5 linked regions of the Homo sapiens genome follow. The protein of the gene in region 3 interacts with the protein of the main gene of each other region in a pairwise test. Each region holds a gene or a part of one and is shown on either strand. Other genes may lie near its edges.

Region 1 (4,374 bases), on a different chromosome or scaffold from region 3:
AAAGATGAAAAGATGGATTCAGCCGGAGATCTGTCAAAGTAGGCCTGGTGTGAAAAGCAAAAGCCTTTGAGAACAGAGTTCCCCAGACAGACAAGGTAGCCAGGGCACTTCACATCACATGCCGGTTAACACAACTAACATGGCCGACCGTGTCTGCTTCACTGTGATAAGCTGCACCTGCAAAAAGTCATGCTGCCCTTCCTTTAGGAGACAGCCTTTTTTTTTTTGAGATGGGGTCTCGCTCTGTTGCCCAGTCTGGAGTGCAGTGGCGCAATCTCGGCTCACTGCAAGCTCCGCCTCCCGGGTTCACGCAGTTCTCCTGCCTCAGCCTCACAAGTAGCTGGGACTACAGGCACCTGCCACCATGCCCGGCTAATTTTTTGTATTTTTAGTAGAGATGGGGTTTCACCATATCAGCCAGGATGGTCTCAATCTCCTGACCTTGTGATCCGCCCGCCTTGGCCTCCCAAAGTGCTGGGATTACAGGCGTGAGCACTGCGCCCGGCCAGGAGACAGCTCTTCAGGAAAAAAAAAAAAAAAAAAGTAATGCTGGAAACTGCTGAAAGTGATTATTAGAAATGCATGGTTTGGCCGGGCATGCATCTCTAGTCAGGAGTTCGAGACCAGCCTGGCCAACATGGTGAAACCCCATCTCTACTAAAAATACAAAAATATTAGCTGGGCGTGGTGGAGCGCACCTGTAATCTCAGCTACTAGGGAGGCTAAGGCAGGAGAATTTCTTGAACCCAGGAGGCAGAGGTTGCAGTGAGCCAAGATCGTGCCACTGAACTCCAACCTGGGCAACAGCCAGACTGTGTCTCAAAAAAAAAAGGAATGCATGGTTTATTACAGCCAGTTAAATGTCTTGAGGTAAAAAGTTATTGCTTATACATTTATATGTCAAGTGGAACTGCACTTAACTGCAGTGGGATTCAGGACGAGTTAGATGAGCAAGGAGATTTCCTACTACAATCCTGTGAGGCAGGCAGCGACCCGCCACAGGGCGCCAGCCTGCGTGTGTCCCACAGAGCAGGCACTCTGTGCAAGGACAGAAGTTCTGCTGTCCTAAGTGAGCAGCCTCCCCTGGATCTCCTGTAGCTGCAGCTGAAAGGTCTGTACCAGCTATAACAACTGTGTGATGAGATTCTCCCATAGAAAATGCCAAGATGGAAACAAGAAAAAAAGGCCAGCCCCAAAGGAAGGCTTTCTCAGCAACCTTGGCCCTAGGGTATATGAGAACAAGACAGGACAGAATCACTGCTCTCCACCATCTCTGCAGCTGGCAGTTACCAGTGTCAGAAAATTCTCTCTTCTGGCTGGGACCACCAGCCCCACACAGACCCACCTCCTAACGGCCCATGCTGGCAGGAGGGGCAGAGCCCCTGCCCCTCCACCCCCAACCATCCCTAGCAACTGGCTTTTGTCTCCTCACCACTCCCCACAGTCTTGCACCCTGACTCAGGTGTCGCTATAGGGCGCTATTTCCTGGTCCTTCCGGAATAAGGTCATTAGGAGGGACCGATCCCACCTTTTATTCAGGAGGCTGCTAGCACCAGTCCTCCCTGCGGCCTTGCCAAGAGGAGAGTGCTGAAAGGGTGCATCCTCTGTGCTCGGGCTGACTTCACCGTCACCTGGTTTCTTCTCCTTCAGGGAAAAGGGTTTCTTATTGGGGCCTGTGGACATAGGAGGCAGAAAAGAGTTTATGCAATCACAGATCACCTGGAACTGGATTTTTTCACTCTGTTTCTAAGAAAGTAATATTATTTTCATTGTCACAGGAGGTTAGAGAAGAGCCCAAGGAAATAACTGTGAGATGCAAATCCACTGAGAGCCAGCCTCCTCCACTGGCTGGGGAAAGGGCTCACGCTCAAAGGGTTTGGACCAAGAGCATGAGAAACTGAAAAGAGGGCCATGCACAATGGCTCATGCCTGTAATCCCAAGATCAGACTGGGCAACATAGCGAGATCTCATCTCTATAAAATAAATAAAAATAATTTTTTTAAAAAGTGAAAAGAATAATTGAAAACTCACTTATTTTCTTCCTGTGCCAAAAGATAGCCATGTCTTTATGCAAACTTTTCCCCTTCTTTCTAGCCAGGGCTGCAGATGCCTGGAAAACAGTCCACAACCGCCATGTGTGAGTATATCAGGAAACCAAAGGAAATGGGATTGAAAACTCAAATGCAGTAAGCACAACAGACCATTCAAAGGCACCAGGAGCTCCTGTCCTTTGCACGACAGTGATTTCTCCACCCACACGTCTGCTAACTGCATGGTCTCTGGCTGCGGCAGCAGCAGTATTCATCTCCCTTACCTGTCTCACAAGCATGTATTTGCTCTTTCCCCCTTTTTTTTTTTGAGACAGAGTCTCGCTCTGTCAGCCAGGCTGGAGTGCGGTGGTGAGATCTCAGCTTACTGCAATCTCCACCTTCAGGGTTCATGCATTCTCCTGCCTCAGCCTCCTGAGCAGCTGGGACTACAGGCGCCCGCCACCACATCCGGCTAATTTTTTGTATTTGTAGTAGAGACGGGGTTTCACCGTGTTAGCCAGGATGGTCTTGATCTCCTGACCTCAGGTGATCCGCCCACCTTGGCCTCCCAAAGTGCTGGGATTACAGGCGTGAGCCACCGCGCCCGGCCCCTTTTTTTTAATTAACAACTTTGCTTCATAGAACTCACAAACTTGGCCTTGTTGGCATTTGGTGAGATGATTCTCACCAGCTGATCACACATACAGAGACAGAAAGTTTGCGAAGTCACAATTAAGCACAAAAGGGAGCTGCAGAATAACACACATGGGATGCCACTTACCACAGAAAACACACACAAAACCAACCACGTTAGTCTCCGTGTAGATACACTCATAAAAATGTCTAAAAAAATACACATCACACTAGTTAACTGGACTGCTCCTGAGTAACAGGAGAGATGAGGATATTCAGTTTTGTCTGTATCAATGAATTGTTTATAAAGGCAGTCTATTTACATATTAGTTATGTCATAAAATATTTAAGGTTCAGCTGGGAAAATAAGCACATTGCAACAGGCAAAAAATAACTGTAAAAACAAAAGGGGGTTGGGCATGGTGGCTCATGCCCGTTATCCTAGCACTTTGGGAGGTGGAGGTGGGAGGATCACTTGTGCCCAGGAATTTAGGACCAGCCTGGGCCACATAGTGAAACTTCATCTCAAAAAAATAAATAAATAATAAAATAACAATAAAATAAATAGTAGTAATAAATAATAAAAACAAGGCCAGGCATGGTGGCTCACGCCTGTAATCCCAGCACTTTGGGAGGCCAAGGTGCGTGGAACACTGAGGTCAGGAGTTCGAGACCAGCCTGGCCAACGTGGTGAAACCCCCTCTCCACTAAAACTACAAAAATTAGCCAGGCATGGTGGTGCACACACAATCCCAGCTACTTGGGAGGCTGAGGGAGGAGAATCGCTTGAACTGGAAAGGTAAAGGTTGAAGTGAGCCAAGATTGCGCCACTACAATACAGGCTGGGAGACAGAGCAAGGCCCCGTCTCAAAAACAACAACAACAAAAATGAGAGCCGGTACAATGACTCAGGTCTGTAATCCCAACATTTTGGGAGGCTAAGGCAGGAGGACAGCTTGAGGACCGGAGTTCGAGACCTGCCTGAGCAACACAGTAAGACCCCATCTATACAAATGTAAAAATACAAACTTTTTTTAATTAAAAAAATTAAAACTAAAAACAAATTAGGATTACCATATGACCCAGCAATTCCAATCCTAAGAATATACCCCAAAAAACTGAAAGCAGGGACTCAAATAAGTCATATGCCAATGAACATTATTCACAATAGCCAAAAAGTAGAAACAACCCGCGTCTGCCAACAGACGAATCAACAAAACGTAGTCCATCCACTCAATGTAGTATCATTCACTTTATAAATTTATACTTTATAAATTCCTATAGAACGTAATTTTGTCTATGAGAATACTCAGAAAAAATAGTGACGATATAAAGCTATATAACATAAGCAGTCCACGTTCACTGCACCCTAGAAAGTATTATGCATACATTTAGGCTGGGCGCAGTGGCTCACGCCTGTAATCCCAGCACTTTGGGAGGCCGAGGCAGGCAGATCGTGAGGTCAGGAGATCGAGACCATCCTGGCTGACACAGTGAAAGCCCGTATCTACTAAAAATACAAAAAAATTAGCCGGGTGTGGTGGCGGGCGCCTGTAGTTCCAGCTACTCCGGAGGCTGAGGCAGGAGAATGGCGTGAACCCGGGAAGTGGAGCTTGCAGTGAGCCGAGATCATGCCACGGCACTCCAGCCTGGGTGACAGAGCAAGACTCCATCTCAAAAAAATAAATAAATAAATAAAAAGAAAGTATT
Region 2 (4,374 bases), on a different chromosome or scaffold from region 3:
AGCAGTAAAACAGATAGACTTCACGAATATTTTTATTCTAAAGTCCACAAAATGTTGGACAATACAGCCTTCCTTACTCTACAAACAGGTACAATTCTGAGTCATAAATCTGCATAGCTAGCATCTCTGCTTTCTACATAAGAATCAAATTAATCCAAACTGCAATTAGGAAAGTCTGTAAGAACACACCAGAAATAAAAGCTGCTAAAGAAAGCTAAATATCATAGCTATCAGAACACTGAAAAAAATTGTTTTTAGTTTCTCTTCAGCCACCATACAACCTAACTTCTCATTTTTAAAATCCTGTATACATACTTGTATAAAAGTAATGGTATCTGTTAAAGGATATAAAACTGTGCTAGATAGGAAGAGTATGTTCTCCTGTTCTATTCCACTGCAGGGTGACTATAGTTTAATATACAGTTTCAAATAGCTAGAGGGAAGATATTGAATGTCCCAACACAAAGAAATAATAAGTGTCTGTGATGATGGTATGCTAATTACCCTGGTCTGACTACTATACATTGTATGTATTGACACATTACTAAGTGCCCCATAAATACATACATATTATGTGTCAAAATAAAATTTTAAAAACAATTAAAGGGGTAACAACTCTACTATGCAGAGTGCAAAGCGAATATTTTATTAGAATATTTAATTTGATTAAACTATGTAATATTAATTTGTACTTTTTAAAAGTATTTACATATTTATCCCAGAGTCAGTAATGGCTAGAAAAAAAAAACCAGAAGTATTTAAATATTTAAGCCACAATTCACTTTTGTTTTAAACATAATTTCACTGTATTGAACGCTAAGCAAAAGTTTCCCTATATAAGACTTACAAATTACTGAGGACAACTCACAAAAAATCATGCATTAGGTATCAAAAAGTATTTTGAATTACAAAAAATCTGAACAAACAACAGTTGAATGTGCTGAGACAAAATGACTGATAGCTTCCACTAAAGGAAGACTTCTGTGTCCAACAGAGGACTGGTGTGGGTCATTTAGACAATAAACCAGCTTCTGCTTATTTAACATTTTAAACAACAGGAAAAAACAAGAAGTTTTACCTTCACTACTTCTATCTCCTCCAAAACTTAATACAAAAACTTTTATATGTAGTATCAGAAAGGGAAGCACTGTCATAAAAAATGACATCTAAAAGCACTTTTATTTTTGTTTTCAGTTCATTCATAAATATTTTTGTACACCTTTTTCACATCACCTATTCAGGGATCAACAATCATTCAACATAATCTGTTAAATCTAATTCCGTGATCTCCCATTTAAGAACTTCAATAATCTCAGCCCAATTTCCTGTTATTTCATATATATGGACCCTCTACTCCAGAGAGCCCATTTACCTTAATATTAGATCCTCACCACAATTACACCTTTAAGCTCCCCATTCTTCTATATCTTCCTCCAAACAATCAGGGCCAGTTTAAGCCCCTCTCTCTTCATAGTCTTCCTAAGTAACTTCAACCCAGAACTGAACCTCTCTAAACTTCCAAGTACCCACTGTATAAAACTCGATCTTGTACTTAATAACAAATATGCACAATGTTAGATGTTGTGTGCTGTAGTCGTAAGTTTCAACTCATCTACAACAAAGTACATTTCAAGATAAGGAATCTCCTTTTATAAATCTCTTCTTTTTCAGCACCCTCTAAGAGGGCAGATCTTGTATGGAACCAGATATGCACTCACATTAGCTGCTGATGAGTATTTGTTTTTGTTTTTTGAGACAGAGTCTCACTCTGTGGCCTAGACTGGAGTGCAGTGGCATGACGCACTGCAGCCTCAACTTCCTGGGTTCAAGCAATCCTCCCAAGTAGCTGGGGCTACAGGCATGCACCACCACATCAGGCTAATTTTTTATTTTTAGTAGAGATGATGTCTTGCTGTGTTGCCTAGGTTGGTCCTGAACTCCTGGGCTCAAATCATCCTCCTGCCTCAGCCTCCCTAGGGGTTGGAATTACAGGCATGAGCCACAGCACCTGGCTGAATATTTGTAAATGAAGATGCTTCAACAATTTATTTAGTATAGCCACAAATCATGCCCTAATTCATGTTTCTTAATTTACATTCTAATATCAGATTTTCTAAATGCAGAAAATCTACATTTAGAATTTTACAGAATATTTCTCTATGCTAAATACTATACTCCTATATACAGTTTTAGACAAATAAGCTGTGATGGAATAAGATAAATATCAACTATATGAAACATAACAGAACTTGGAAGACAAGGAATAAGTTTCAGGTCCCTTTTATATTCTGTCAAGCACAATTGTGGCACACAGTAAGCACTTGATAAATATGTATTGATAAATAAATCATCATCTACTAATAAACATCATCTCCAAATGCTAAATTTGGGGTAACCAACTAACTAAAATATTCTAGGGTCTTAACAATTCCTTAAGTAGCTGATTTTAATGAGCCTAATTTTGAAAAATTTATATTCTACACTCAGCTGCCAACCCCTGAAAAATGAAAACAAGCAAGTAAATTATGGCAAACGATGCTAATATTATTTCACAACATCGTTTCTCAATGTGTCACACCAGAACACACTACCACGTACACCTACCATGTACAATGCATTATGTTGGAAGCCTTGTGCTAGACACTGTGAAGATAAAAGAATGAGATCTCTACCTTGAAGAGGCCAAAAACCCAGTTAAGTTAAAATGTAAACAACTAATTATGTAAGACAGAACGTGAAAGTCATCCTGAAATATGTTACAGAAGGAGAATAGGAGAGTAAGGAGTAAAAATTTTAAAGGAGTCACTGGAAGAAAGTTAAGTGTAAGTATATATATTTCTAAGAGATACAGGCCAGGCGCGGTGGCTCACACTTGTAATCCCAGCACTTTGGGAAGCCGAGGTGGGTGGATTGCCTGAGGTCAGGAGTTGGAGACCAGTCTACAATCCCAGCTACTCAGGAGGCTGAGGCAGGGAATCGCTTGAACCAAGGAGGTGGAGGTGGAGGCTGCAGTGAGTCGGGATCGCACCACTGCACTCCAGCCTGGGCGGCAAAGCAAAACTCTGCCTCAAAAAATAAAAATAATAATAAAAATAATAGATACAAGATGTGAGAGGGGGTGTCAATTCAAGTAGACAAAAAACCAAAGCAAAAATGCTAAAAAGTTGCTGGGTGTGTTCAGAGAGGAAGAAACAGTTCAATCTGATTGCAGCCAAGGATGTAAAACAGAATTACGAAACACTGGGGTCTGAGAAGTTGACAGCATTTGCATATATTTCCTATTTACAAGGCTACTAGAAGCACTTGGTTTTTGAGAATCAAAAAAAGTAGGGGACATTCATATGATCTCTATGAACCTGCTCTCTAAGGACACAAAGTAGCTTAAATTACAACTGAAGAGAGAATTTCAAGAGATGGGCTACTGTGAAAACTCACTTTAGGTTTCCAGGGCATCGCACATGTTTACCAGTATAAAATCTTTAAATTAAGTTCATCTGACCTTAAGAACACAGCACAAGGTACATCTATTTATTCAGAGCACTGCCCACGGCTAGAGTGAGTAGGAGTTTTGAAGTCAGGGTAGAACTCATTGGTTATGACAGCCAACAAGTTGATTAAAATACACACTGAAATGCTGTAACTTCAAGTCTTGAAGGCTTGTTGATGGACACTTAGGCTTATAAATAGCCTTCAAAAATCCATGTATGGGTAATAACACCATATTTATAGAAATATGTACATGCTCTCTAAAAAGAAACAAACAGAATAAACTACAATGATGTATACTATTATAAATTGGAAACACTAATCATTTAGCACTGCATTAAAACATATTGGCCAGGCACAGTGGTTCATTCTTGTAATACCAGCACTTTGGGAGACCAAGGCGGGTGTATCACGTGAGGTCAGGAGTTCAAGACCAGCCTGGCCAACAGAGTGAAACCTGTCTCTACTAAAAATACAAAAAATTAGCTGGGTGTGGTGGCAGGCACCTGTATCCCGGCTACTCGGGAGGCTGAGGCAGGAGGATTGCTTGAACCCGGGAGGCAGAGGTTACAAGTGAGCCAAGATTGCGCCACTGCACTCCAATCTGGACAACACAGCGAAACTCAATCTCAAAAAAAAAACTTATTTAGGTCCTCAATGTACTTTATCAACTATTACATGCACATAATGGTCAATTAAAGAGTAACAAAATGGCTTGCCCTAATTCTTTTTAAAATGTATGATTTAAAGTAACTTGCAGTCTCCAAAATATATACTGACTAAAAGTCTCAAAGTCATTTTAGCATTAACGATGCAAAATAAGAATCAAAATTTTAAAAATAGGACATTAAGCCATTACAAAATATTTCCACTTACAGTATCTTATTT
Region 3 (4,374 bases):
CTGCTTGGGGGCCCCTCCCCACTGCCTGAGGTCCCCTCAGAACACTCCCTGCTGCTTGAGGTCTCTGCAGTGGCTGGACAGAGATTGTTTGTGTACGCATGCTCACGTGTGTATCTCTGTGCCTGTGCACGTGTCTGTGAACCTGTTGCGGGGAGGGGATTCTGTGATTAAGTTAGGCTCTCTCTTGTTGGTAGCTACAAACTTTTTTAAGATCCAAGTCAATTCTCATTCAACCTCCATCCCAACCCCAGAGACAAGGGAGAGAAATGACAGCAAAGTAACCACTGGGGCAGTTAAAACTTGTGTGAGAATCCTCCCACCTGACTTTCACTGGATGTTCCTAGAAGCCCTCTTCTGTGTTGGCATGTCTGTGTGTGTGCGAGAGAGCATTGTGTGTCTGCGTACTGGTCTGGTCCATACATCTGTGTGTAATTGGTGAGCATTGGTGTGTGTCTGTGTGAACCAGCACATCTATGAGCCAGTCCTGGCCCACGTGGGTGAGTGTGTGCAGCCCCACCCTTGTGCTTTGTGTGGTTGCTGGTTGAGAATGGTCTACAGCCCTCTCAGGAATTGCCTGACAAGCAGCTGGGGCCTACCTGGGCTTGGGCCGCTACCTCCAGGGGTGCAGCTATAGATGCTCATGACTCTGACTTCTGCCTCAGGGATTCCCCCAGCATAGGAGAGGGTGCTGCGGTTATCTCCTCAGCAAAGGTATCCAGGCCCCAGGCCTGACCAGGGGTTGCCTGCCTCCAGGTGCTGCTGTGCGGCTGTGTGATGAGGCCCAGGGTTGGCTGGAGCCCGACCTCTTCAACTGTACCTCCCCTGCCTTTCGAGAGCTCAGTCTGCTGGTGAGACTGCCCAGACCTTTTCCTGCAACCTAAGACCTTCCTTGGCCTGTGGTGGGCCCCAGATACCACACCCTAGCCCTTGAACTCCTGAGCCTTTCCTGGTTGCCCTTTAATCTGGCAAGGCTTTCTCCCTGTGAAGCTTTAGAGGAAGGCCTAAGGGACCACAGAGCAACCATCTCCTTGTCTTGGCAGCTGGATGGCCTAGAGCTGAACAAGACGGCACTGGATACCATGGAGGCCAAGAAGCTGGCTCAGCGGCTACGGGAGGTGACTGGCCACACTGACCACTATTTTAGCCAAGATGTTCGAGTCACTGCCCGCCTGCTGGCCCACCTGCTGGCCTTCGAGAGCCATCAGCAGGGCTTCGGGCTGACAGCCACACAGGATGCCCACTTCAATGAGGTGGGGCTGTGCCCTATGTTCTCAGTGCCTTGGCCCCCCAGCTCCCAGCCTCCTGCCCCTGGATCCCCAGCTCAGGCTCCTGCTGTTCTCTTGGGAAGTGAAGGTCCTGGGCTCTCCCTCTGTCCTTGTCCTCTCCAGCCCCGCCCCCTTGCCTGTTGGAGCCCCTCTGAGCACCTGTCCAGACCTCTCATGCCTGCCCTATCCCCTCATACATCCTCACCACCTGGCTGAACCCAATTCTATCTCTGTCTTCCCAGAATCTGCTGTGGGCCGGCTCTGCACTGCTTGCCCCAGAGACAGGGGACTTGTGGGCGGCGCTGGGGCAGCGGGCCCCTGGGGGCTCCCCAGGCAGCGCGGGACTGGTGAGGCACCTGGAGGAGTATGCAGCCACACTCGCAAGGAATATGGAACTCACATACCTGAATCCCATGGGGCTGGTGACGCCTAATATCAGTGCGTTGTGGGTGGGGTAGGGCGGGGCACAGCAGGGGGGCCATGAAAGGGCAGGTACCTGAAGGTCTGAGGGGCTGTGGCTATCAATGCCAATGTTAATGGCAGGAGACTCAGCCACCGCCCTCAGCGTTTTGTAGGGACAGGCTCCGAGCTGGTAGCACAGAAAACAGATTGTGGGACTCAGGTGCGGGATGCGAGTAAGAGGGAGTAGAACCCTTGGCAGGGGGAAGAGGTCCATGATGGGCCTCCCCTTTCTTTCTCCTGGGTAGTGCTCAGCATTGACCGCATGGAGCACCCCAGTTCTCCCCGGGGGGCCCGTCGCTACCCTCGCTACCATAGCAACCTCTTTCGAGGCCAGGATGCCTGGGATCCTCACACCCATGTGCTGCTGCCTTCCCAGTCCCCACGGCCATCCCCATCTGAAGGTGAGAGCCCCTAGGGGACCCCTGGGCCAAGTCCTGTCTCTCTGTCCCCCCAACCAGATACTATGTTGCCCTCCTGCCAATTTTCCCCTTTCTAGACCTCCCCAGTGTCAGACCCTCCCACATCTCCCCTCCACCCTCCCTCCCATATTTCCCCTCCACCCTCCCTCCCACATCTCCCCTCCACCCTCCCACATCTCCCCTCCACCCTCCCTCCCACATCTCCCCTCCACCCTCCCTCCCACATCTCCCCTCCACCCTCCACCCTCCCACATCTCCCCTCCACCCTCCCTCCCACATCTCCCCTCCACCCTCCCTCCCACATCTCCCCTCCACCCTCCCTCCCACATCTCCCCTCCACCCTCCACCCTCCCACATCTCCCCTCCACCCTCCACCCTCCCACATCTCCCCTCCACCCTCCCTCCCACATCTCCCTTCCACCCTCCCTCCCACATCTCCCTTCCACCCTCCACCCTCCCACATCTCCCCTCCACCCACCACCCTGCCTCTCACATCTCCCCTCCACCCTCCACCCTCCCTCCCACATCTCCCCTCCACCCTCCACCCTCGACCCTCCCACATCTCCCCTCCACCCTCCACCCTCCCACATCTCCCCTCCACCCTCCACCCTCCCACATCTCCCCTCCACCCTCCCACATCTCCCCTCCACCCTCCCTCCCACATCTCCCCTCCACTGTCCACCTTGCCACACCTTCACTTTGTCAGAGCCTCTCCCTCATCACAAATGACCCCTCCCAGGCCTTGACTGTTACTTTCTGGGTTCATGCTCCCTGCACTCCCCAATTCTGCTCCTGCAGGGAAGAGACCCCCATGCTTGATCGGGTTCAGAGCTGGGTTGGTGGGTGCTTTGGGTCAAAGGTCACTGACAGAAGCTCCTCCTTCTCTCCTGGCAGTTCTGCCCACAAGCAGCAGCATAGAAAACTCCACCACCTCAAGTGTGGTCCCCCCACCAGCCCCGCCAGAGCCAGAGCCTGGGATCTCCATTATCATTCTCCTCGTTTACCGCACCTTAGGGGGACTGCTCCCTGCCCAGTTCCAGGCAGAACGCCGAGGTGCCAGGTACTCAGGCCCCTCACCCCTGAGCTTCCTACGAACTTCTCAGCCTGGCAGCCCCTTTTTTGGTGGGTAGATGCGTAGGTTCACAACACACAGAGAGGAGCACAGCTCCAGGGAGCCCCATCCTTGCCGGGTTCTGTGTGAATCTTATTCTCTGGAGTTGTGCAGAGTGACAGAGCCACAGGCTGACAGACACAGAGCCACACACAGGAGGGATCCATGAGCCAGGTACAGACAGACCAAAGGGCTGACAGAGACAGACAAGGACAGGCTGACTGATGGGGGTAGGAGGGAGGGCAATCAGAGGCAAACAGTTGCAGGTCCCCTGGAGCTGCTCAGCCCCTCAGCAGCCCAGCAGAAGCTGGAGGGATTCTTAGAAACAGCTTCCACTCTGGGGACATCCCAGACCCTGGGTCAGCCCTGGCGAGTGGCATGAAGACGGGGTGAGGCAAGCAGGCTGAGCATGGGGAGGTCAGCAGTGCGTAAGCCCAGATGGGTGTCTCCCCAGGCTTCCTCAGAACCCCGTCATGAACTCCCCGGTGGTCAGCGTGGCTGTGTTCCACGGACGCAACTTCCTAAGGGGAATCCTGGAGTCCCCCATCAGCCTAGAGTTTCGCCTGCTACAGACAGCGAATCGGAGCAAGGCGATCTGTGTGCAGTGGGACCCACCTGGCCTGTGAGGACCCCCATTCTGGAAACCCTTGGTCCCGTTAGCCCTTGGGAGGCCAACTAATAGTCCCAGCCTTCCCCTGGGGCCCCCACTAGTGCTGTTGTGCAACCCGGACCATGAGGAATGCTGTACCCCAACTCCAGGCACCCTCAGCCCTTCCCATGATCTCTCACAAACCCCTGCCTGACACTGGGTCACAGTTGTGTCTAACTGCCCTGTGGCTGCAGGGCGGAGCAGCATGGTGTGTGGACAGCACGGGACTGCGAGCTGGTGCACAGGAATGGGTCCCACGCACGGTGTCGCTGCAGCCGGACAGGGACCTTTGGGGTCCTCATGGATGCCTCTCCCCGTGAGGTGGGGCTGTGTTCAGTGTCCCAAGGAAGTGGGGGGTCAAAGGGACACGGGGATTCTGCCCAACAACCCATCAACCATCCCTGTCTCTGTAGAGGCTGGAGGGCGACCTGGAGCTGCTGGCTGTGTTCACCCACGTGGTCGTGGCTG
Region 4 (4,374 bases), on a different chromosome or scaffold from region 3:
TCAGTGCCCTCCTGCACGCTCCATAGGGGCCATTTGGAACTCTAATCATTTCCACAAACTGGGTGGCTTTAAACAACAGGAAGGTATTCTGGCAGCTCTGGAGGCGAGAACTCCAAAATCAGGTGTCAGCAGGGCCCGCTGGCTCTGAAGGCTGAGGGGAGTGTCTGCCCCGAGCTGCTGTCCTGCTCCTGCTGTTCCCAGCAAGCCTTGGTGCTCCCTGGCTGGCAGATGCGCTGCTCCAGCCCTGCCTCTGGTGTCATCCGGCCTTCCCTTCTGTATGTCTGCGTCTCTTCTCCTCTTCCTAAAAGGACATCAGGCATATGTAACTAGGGCCTGCTCTAATGACCTCACCTGAGCTTACCCACATCTGCAAAGACCCTGTTTCCAAAGGACGCCATGTCACAAGGACCAGGGATAGGACTTCCACATATCTTTGTGGGGACACAATTCACCCCCTAACAGAAACGTTCCCCAAGCTCCTCAGACTTCGATAATCACCCTCTCGGTGCCCAGTGCACCTCATATTCCATAAAGAAAATGAGGTGCCAGGTGCGGTGGCTCACGCCTGTAATCCCAACACTTTGGGAGGCCGGGGTGGGTGGATCATGAGGTCAGGAGATCAAGACCATCCTGGCTAACACGGTGAAACCCCGTCTCCACTAAAAATACAAGAATTAGCCGGGCGTGGTGGCGGGCACCTGTAGTCCCAGCTACTCAGGAGGCTGAGGCAGGAGAATGGCATGAACCCAGGAGGCAGAGCTTGCTGTGAGCCGAGATCACGCCACTGCACTCCAGCCTGGGCAACAGAGTGAGACTCCATCTCAAAAAATATAAATAAATAAGAAAATGAGGTTTCCTCCTCTACTCACTCTTCAGCCCTCTGCAGGCTCCCTATTGCCACCACAACTTCACCCAAGCAGCGACAGTCATCAGTTGCTTCTAGGTGTCACCCCCTGAGTGTTTTGGGGTCCTTGTCTGTACCACACTCCTGTGAAGTCCTCTGGGAAACATGCCCGAGAGCGCAGGGGTAGGGCGTTCCCTGCCCGGCCTCCATGGCTTTGCCAGCTCTTCCTCCATTTCCAGCTTGTGAGCACCATGGCCTTCTGCAGAGCTTGGTCAGGGCTCCTCTCCATTTCTTCCTTCTCCTGTGATCTGAGCATCCCCAGTGGCTTGCAGACATACATCTCCTGCCTAGAAGTTCCCTCTGAGCTGTAAGCTTAGGGACCCAGCTGCCTTCCTGACATCTCTAGGGTGTTTCAAGGAGACCTCAGACTGTACAAAACTGAACTGAAATTGTCCCCCACCCTTCCCCTGCCTCATATCTCCTGCTCACTGAGATGGGCACCTCCCATCTCAATGAAAGTCACCCCCTTTATCCTGGTTTCTAGAACAAGAACCTGGGCATGACTGTTGACATTTCCCACTCCCCTACCTTGTAATCCATCACTAGATCCTCCCAGTTTCTCCCCCGGAACCTCTGGCGAGTCTGCTGCTGCTTGCCCTTCCAACCGCCCTTCCCTCCTCCAGGTTCCCATCCCCCTCTCCTGGACACCAGTACAGCTTCCTACTGTGGCAGCTGTGCCCTCACAGGCCTCCTCTACTTTACACGGCAACCAGGCCTGGCCTGTCTTGGCATCACAGATGGAATCACTCCCTGCTCCCACCTCCCCGGCCCTGTGCTGCTCTTTGGGTGAACATGGAGTCCCTGATGTGGCCCCTAGCGCCTCCCAGGTCTGGCTCTGTCACCTGTCACATCAGGCTCACCTTCCTTGATGCTGACACAGCCTTGCACAGCCTTCCTCGGCCTTCCAGCCCTGCACATGCTGTGCCACCTGCAAAGAAGACACTCCTTCATCCATTTTTGTAATTAATGCATTAATCCTTCAGGTGAAAGTGGCTAAGTGGCCCCTTAGGAACTGCTCCCCCCTCCACACACACACACACACACACACACACACACACACACACACACGCCCTTGCAGCGCGATGCAGCGCTGGTCAGCGGCTCCCCTGTTGCCAGCAGGCTCCTCCATATACTGGCAGCTTTGCGAAGGCCGTGCCAGACTTAGGGCTCAGTCCAGCCCCAGCACCAACCCCACTTTTGCCCATTTTTTTGGGTAGATTCTCCCTTGCAGGAGCCTATAACATATATGGTAAATGGGATATTTTTTAAAATAAATATTATTAAATTCCAAAGTTATAGCAATTTTAGGTAAAATTTTTAAATTTAGAAGATCTAAAGCATACTATTATAAAACTAGTCAATAGCATATTTCTGTGTTTCCAGTTGGCACAAGGAAAACTTCAGGATTTCAAAATAGTGATCTATTGGACAATGATGAGATCACAGAAGATGGCTCCTAAGCCCAGTGGAACAACTGGGGGCAAACCAAGTTAATCTCTGAAAACGCACTTATATCTTCCCCAAAGCTGCTGCTTTAGAAAATTTTAGAAAACACAGCACATGGCCGGGCACGGTGGCTCACGCCTGTAATCCCTGCACTTTGGGAGGCCGAGGCGGGCAGATCATGAAGTCAGGAGTTTGAGACCAGCCTGGCCAATATGATGAAACACTGTCTCTACTAAAAATACAAAAATTAGCTGGGCTTGGTGGCGCGCCTGTAGTCTCAGCTACTTGGGAGGCTGAGGCAGGAGAATCGCTTGAACCTTGGAGGCGGAGGTTGCGGTGAGCTCAGATCATGCCACTGCAGCACTCCAGCCTGGGCTACAGAGTGAGAATCCATCTCAGAAAAAAAAAAAGAGGAAACGCAGCACATATCTCACAAGCTGTCATTAGTGACATCACCACATCACACAGCCTTTGAAAAGCTCCACTGTAGACGCGTGAAAGAAGGAGAGTATGAATGGCACTAACCTGTCACTATTATTCTGAAAATAATTTTCACCTTTCAGATCCCTGAAAGGGTCCTGGGGTCTCTGGACAACACTTTGAGATCCCTGGGGCCACAAACCTCACCTGCTGGCTCGCTGGTGGTTTTTGTAGATAAGGTTTTAGGGAACCCAGCCACGCACTAAAATGCGTGCCAGCCATCCAGCAGCCATGGGGAGGAGGTGGCACATCATGACAAGGTGGCACTCCATGAGAAGCTGGTCGGGGTTGCCAGCTGAGCACAAGTTACCTTCTGCTTTGGTAGCTCAGCTAGGGGCAAGGTTGGTGCGTTTTTATGAAAAATTAAAGAGTCTACTGAGAACATTGCCCCATTGCCTTAATAGCTTTTGTACCTTGTCGCCAATGTGGAGTCCACAGATCACACAGAAGTTTTGTTTGTTTGTTTGTTTGTTTTTGGAGACAGAGTCTTGCTCTGTCGCCCAGGCTGGAGTGCAGTGGTGCGATCTGGGCTCGCTGCAACCTCTGCCTCCTGGGTTCAAGCAATTCTCCTGCCTTAGCCTCCCGAGTAGCTGGGACTACAGACGCCCGCCATCACACCTGGCTAATTTTTGTATTTTTAGTAGAGACGGAGTTTCACCAAATTGGCCCAGCTGGTCTCGAACTCCTGACTTTGTGATCCACCCACCTCAGCCTCCCAAAGTGCTGTAATTACAGGAGTGAGCCGCCGTGCCCGGCCTAGACAGAAGTTCTTAAAAGTAGCTGTCCCTCTCTGAACTGTGGGAATTTGCCTCTCATCCAATGCAGGGGGAGTGCGTGCCAGATACACACGTCGAGAGGCCGTTCCGGGTTGCTTCCCTGTGCTGGCACCCGACGCGGCTGGTGCTGGCTGTGGGCTGGGAGACTGGAGAAGTGACGGTGTTTAACAAGCAGGACAAGGAGCAGCACACGATGCCCCTGACACACACAGCCGACATCACCGTGCTCCGTTGGAGCCCCAGTGGAAACTGCCTGCTGTCTGGGGACAGGGTGAGTCAACACGCGCAAGACGCTGTTTTCAGACCTTGACCCTTTCTGACCATGCTCGAGAGTATGAAAGATCAAAATATGGGAACCGTGCTGTTGCCAAATTCAGTTGATCTTGTCAGATGCAATTGTAGATTTTGTTTTATATTGGAAGCAAGGCTTGAAAATTTGCCACTCTGTGGCAAAGGTGTGTCTGCACCTTTATAAATGAACTTTGCTGGGAAACTGCATTCGTAAAGATACGTGCCCAGATACTGTCACTTTTCCCTAGGCCTGTTTGTCTAGCTCAGGGCTTCTTAACCAGGGTTGGTTCTGCCCCCCAGGGGACATGGGGCAGTGTCCAGTCACATTTTCTGTTGTCACAATTTTGGGGGAGGATTCAGCTGGACCCCTGTGGGTGGGTGGTGGATGCTGCCCACCATCACACAGTACACAGGACAGACCCACAGCATAGCGACATGGTGCAGAGGCAACTGAATCACAAATATATGGCAGAAATG
Region 5 (3,790 bases), on a different chromosome or scaffold from region 3:
CTGACACGTCCTGATTTAGGCCATTCTCTAACTCCACACTTCACAAATCTAACATCTAAACATCTGACTTTTAGCTATACTAGAAGAAGCAATATGCTCCCTTAGAAGGAACTTGCAATAATGAAAGAATGGGTCTCCAATGCCAGTGAGACTGGAGTGAAACCAGCCTATTCATATAAAATTGTTGGTTAGCAATATAAATTGGCAAAAGCCTATAAGAAATTTAATAAATCAAGTTGGTAAAACATACCAAGACACATAAAAATGTTCAAGCCATTTAATTCAGTGATCCCACTCTTAGGAATTTATCATTAAGAGAAATGCTATATTGACTATAGCATTACTTGTAATTATGAAAAATTGAAAAATAATGTTAATACCTACTAGAACATTTAAGTAAATGATAAATAAGATTATACATGAGAAAAAGTTCTCACAACATGCTAAGTGAAATAAGAATGAATTATATTTAAACTATTATATATATATATATATATATATTTTTTTTTTTTTTTTTTTTTTTTTTTTAGACAGAGTCTCACTCTGTCACCAGGCTGGAGTGCAGTGGCGGGATCTCAGCTCACTGCAAATTCCGCCTCCTGGGTTCCAGCAATTCCTTGTGCCTCAGCCGCCCTGGTAGCTGGGATTACAGGCATGCGCCACCACACCCAGCTAATTTTTGTATTTTTAGTAGAGATGGGGTTTCACCATGTTGGCCAGAATGGTCTCAATCCCCTGACCTTGTGATCCGTCCGCCTCAGCCTCCCTCCCAAAGTGCTGGGACTACAGGTGTGAGCCACCATGCCCAGCCTATTATATCTATATTTAAAAAACATATATCCATATGGATAAAGAAAGGAGAACATGGAAAAGCAAAAAAAAATTACGATGGTAGAATTATACAAATTTTCCTTTAATGTTAGAATTTTCAAACAGCTCTAGCAAAGGCAGGAAGAGGTCATATGACTAAAACTAAAGAGAGAGTCAAGTCCCTGAAGAAGCACATCTTGGGCCTTACCTTTAATATCTGGTGTCTGTGGTGTTGAAAAGGCATTTGAGTTTTCAATGACATGTAGGGGGTCAATGTTCTCTTGCTCCACCATCATGAACTGACTCCAATACTCCAGAGGCAAGGAAAGCAGGCGCTCAACCACCTAAAAGCCAGCAAATCTGTTAGCAAACTTCCAAAGCTCAGGGCTTCTCAACTGTCTTTCAAGTTATCACATTACACAAGTTCACATACACACACACACGCACCTGCCTACCTTGGGTTGACGCTTGATGTCCTGTAACATTGTCACTGGGTCTGGATTGGGCACAGCATGGGCCACTATTGTAGGGCCAAAGACTTTAGCCAGATTGGCAACATCCATTTTAGTATGTGGACTCTGAGCCACTCTAAGCAAAAGAATATTAAATTAGAAGTCTTGCTCCTTGCTTAAATGCAGACCAAAATATAAATTCTATAAGAAAACAATTCATCCCTCATACTCCCAAACACTCAACCCACATTATCTTCCCCTTGGAAAAAAATTCCCTAACTCCCAGAACAAGTTTCTGCTGTACTCACCTCTGCAAGTGAATCATGAGGAAAGCTAATGTGTCCCTGTTGGCCTGGGGCAGTTCACCAACAGCTTGGTACATGGCAGCTATGCTGTTGTCTTCATCTGTGATTTCTGTAATTGAAAAGAAAGCACCAAGAGGCCTAGACTTCTTTCCCTTGACAGCGGGCTTCCAAGTTATCGACCACAAAGTCTCATCTATACAGTAAGCTTCTGAAACTCCTGATTAGTTCATGACTACATCAGACTCTAGTTTCATTAACAAGCAGGATACTGGCCAACAGCTCAATATTAGAAGTCAAAACTTTTAAAAAATCGGCCTTTGCAGTTAGGGAAAGCAGTTGGCAACTGATGTGCTAGGCAGACAGGCATACAATTGCAGTGACTACAATTACCAAGAAGGTATTCATTCATGAGACATATTTAAGGGCCTACGATGTGCCAGGTACAAGTGCTGAGGATAAAGCAGAAGTAAACAAAGCCCTTATCTTATGGAACCTACATTCTATTGGTGGAGTCAGTCAAAAAGCAAATACCTATCAGGTAGAGTGATACATAAATGAAGAAAACAAGGCAGGCAAGAAGCTAGAAAGAAATGAGAGCTGTTAATCTAGACAAGGTTGTCAGGAAAGGTGTTTCTGGGGACAAGGTATATGAAGAGAAATATGAAAGAAATAAAGGAGCAAACCATACTGTATCTAATGTAAGAGCATTCAGGTTGAGACAACAAATGTGAAGGCCTTAAGGTAGGGAGTAAACTTGGTATATTCTAAGAATTGAAAAAGCTCCAACCTAACTGGAGAGGAAGGAAAGAAAGGAAGAACACTGTACACAATAACGTAATGAGAAAGCAAGAGGATAGGCAAGGGTGACACGCATACAGTTACTCATCCATCAAACTACTTGAGCACCTACTATGTTTCAGGCATTGTACTAGGCAGGAGCTAATAAAAAGAGGAAGGTGGCCAGGTGTGGTGGCTCATGCCTGTAATCCCAGCACTTTGGGAGGACAAGGTGGGTAGATCACCTGAGGTCAGGAGTTTGAGACCAGCCTGGCTAACATGGTATAACACCGTTAACGCCTGTAATCTCAGCTACTCAGGAGGCTGAGGCAGGAGAATCGCTTGAACCCAGGAGGCGGAGTTTGCAGTGAGCCGATAGCGCCACTGCACTCCAGCCTGGGCGACAGAGAAAGACTCCGTCTTAAAAAAAAAAAAAAAAGAGGCTGGGCACGGTGGCTCACGCCTGTAATCGCAGCACTTTGGGAGGCCGAGGCAGGCAAATCACAGGGCAGGAGATCGAGACCATCCTGGCTAACATGGTGAAACCCCATCTCTACTAAAGATAGAAAACATTAACCAGGCATGGTGGCACACGCCTGTAATCCTAGCTACTCAGGAGGCTGAGGCAGGAGAATCGCTTCAACCTGGGAGACGGAGGTTGCAGTGAGCTGAGATTGCGCCACTGACTTCAGCCTGGGCGAGAGTGAGACTCTGTCTAAAAAATAAAAAATAAATAAAAAAATAAAGAGAGTAAGAAAAACTACTGCCGTGGAGGAATTCATATTCAAGTATTACATCTGCCCTTACCTGCTGCTTCCATAAAGGCTCTGTTAAGGCGAAAGGTCAGAAGAGGTTCTTTGAGGTTTCGAAGAAAGTCTTTTAGAAGGCTACAGATAGCATGGATATCATCCACTTTGCTGAGGAGGGGTACAGTTTTCACTCTGAGGAATTTCTCTTTCAGCTCTTTTACTGTGCGGTCACAGCCAGAGATCCTATACAGGCCTGTCTATTATCAAGATGACATTTTTATTTAAAAACCTCCGAATTAACACAAATAACAAATTCACCATCTCCTACAGTTGACTCTTACCTCAGTCAGACCTCTTTGCTCAATCTCATTTACACAATGCACAACAATGGAGGGGATCATTGGAGAAGTCTGGGACACAAAGTCTGCCAGCATTCCCTGGAAAAAAAAAAGAGCTTTAAATTATTATTTACGCCATGTAGACCAACAGATGAAGACCACATGCGAAGAACCACCTCCAATCTTATTCTCAAACTGGGACATCATGTCTACTTTTACATTCCTATTCCCAAAGCATATATTAAAACAGAGACTCTCAATTATTTTTCCTACCTCCACACCAGGACTGATTTATTATCATATATACCACACTTTTTCTTTTTCATATATACACCACACTGTTATGTGAACAAGGAATA

What was found.
Region 1: the proteins of CELSR3 (region 3) and MCM3AP interact in a two-hybrid assay, tested with the Homo sapiens proteins (one large-scale study listed by IntAct).
Region 2: the proteins of CELSR3 (region 3) and TRIP12 interact in a two-hybrid assay, tested with the Homo sapiens proteins (one large-scale study listed by IntAct).
Region 4: the proteins of CELSR3 (region 3) and IFT140 interact in a two-hybrid assay, tested with the Homo sapiens proteins (one large-scale study listed by IntAct).
Region 5: the proteins of CELSR3 (region 3) and RACGAP1 interact in a two-hybrid assay, tested with the Homo sapiens proteins (one large-scale study listed by IntAct).

The regions. Positions count from the first base shown.
Region 1 is NC_000021.9:46,278,465-46,282,838, forward strand, and holds part of MCM3AP (germinal-center associated nuclear protein), read right to left. Parts: intron 2,112-4,374; coding exon 2,033-2,111; intron 1,674-2,032; coding exon 1,529-1,673; intron 1-1,528.
Region 2 is NC_000002.12:229,911,136-229,915,509, forward strand, and holds part of TRIP12 (E3 ubiquitin-protein ligase TRIP12), read right to left. Parts: intron 1-4,374. UniProt on the Homo sapiens protein: E3 ubiquitin-protein ligase involved in ubiquitin fusion degradation (UFD) pathway and regulation of DNA repair.
Region 3 is NC_000003.12:48,645,595-48,649,968, reverse strand, and holds part of CELSR3 (cadherin EGF LAG seven-pass G-type receptor 3 precursor), read left to right. Parts: intron 1-753; coding exon 754-848; intron 849-1,040; coding exon 1,041-1,250; intron 1,251-1,507; coding exon 1,508-1,703; intron 1,704-1,972; coding exon 1,973-2,128; intron 2,129-3,040; coding exon 3,041-3,206; intron 3,207-3,711; coding exon 3,712-3,879; intron 3,880-4,100; coding exon 4,101-4,227; intron 4,228-4,319; coding exon 4,320-4,374. UniProt on the Homo sapiens protein: Receptor that may have an important role in cell/cell signaling during nervous system formation.
Region 4 is NC_000016.10:1,601,873-1,606,246, reverse strand, and holds part of IFT140 (intraflagellar transport protein 140 homolog), read left to right. Parts: intron 1-1,764; exon of another isoform or gene 1,765-1,832; intron 1,833-3,655; coding exon 3,656-3,877; intron 3,878-4,374. UniProt on the Homo sapiens protein: Component of the IFT complex A (IFT-A), a complex required for retrograde ciliary transport and entry into cilia of G protein-coupled receptors (GPCRs).
Region 5 is NC_000012.12:49,990,980-49,994,769, forward strand, and holds part of RACGAP1 (rac GTPase-activating protein 1), read right to left. Parts: intron 3,531-3,790; coding exon 3,435-3,530; intron 3,351-3,434; coding exon 3,152-3,350; intron 1,677-3,151; coding exon 1,571-1,676; intron 1,399-1,570; coding exon 1,266-1,398; intron 1,155-1,265; coding exon 1,019-1,154; intron 1-1,018.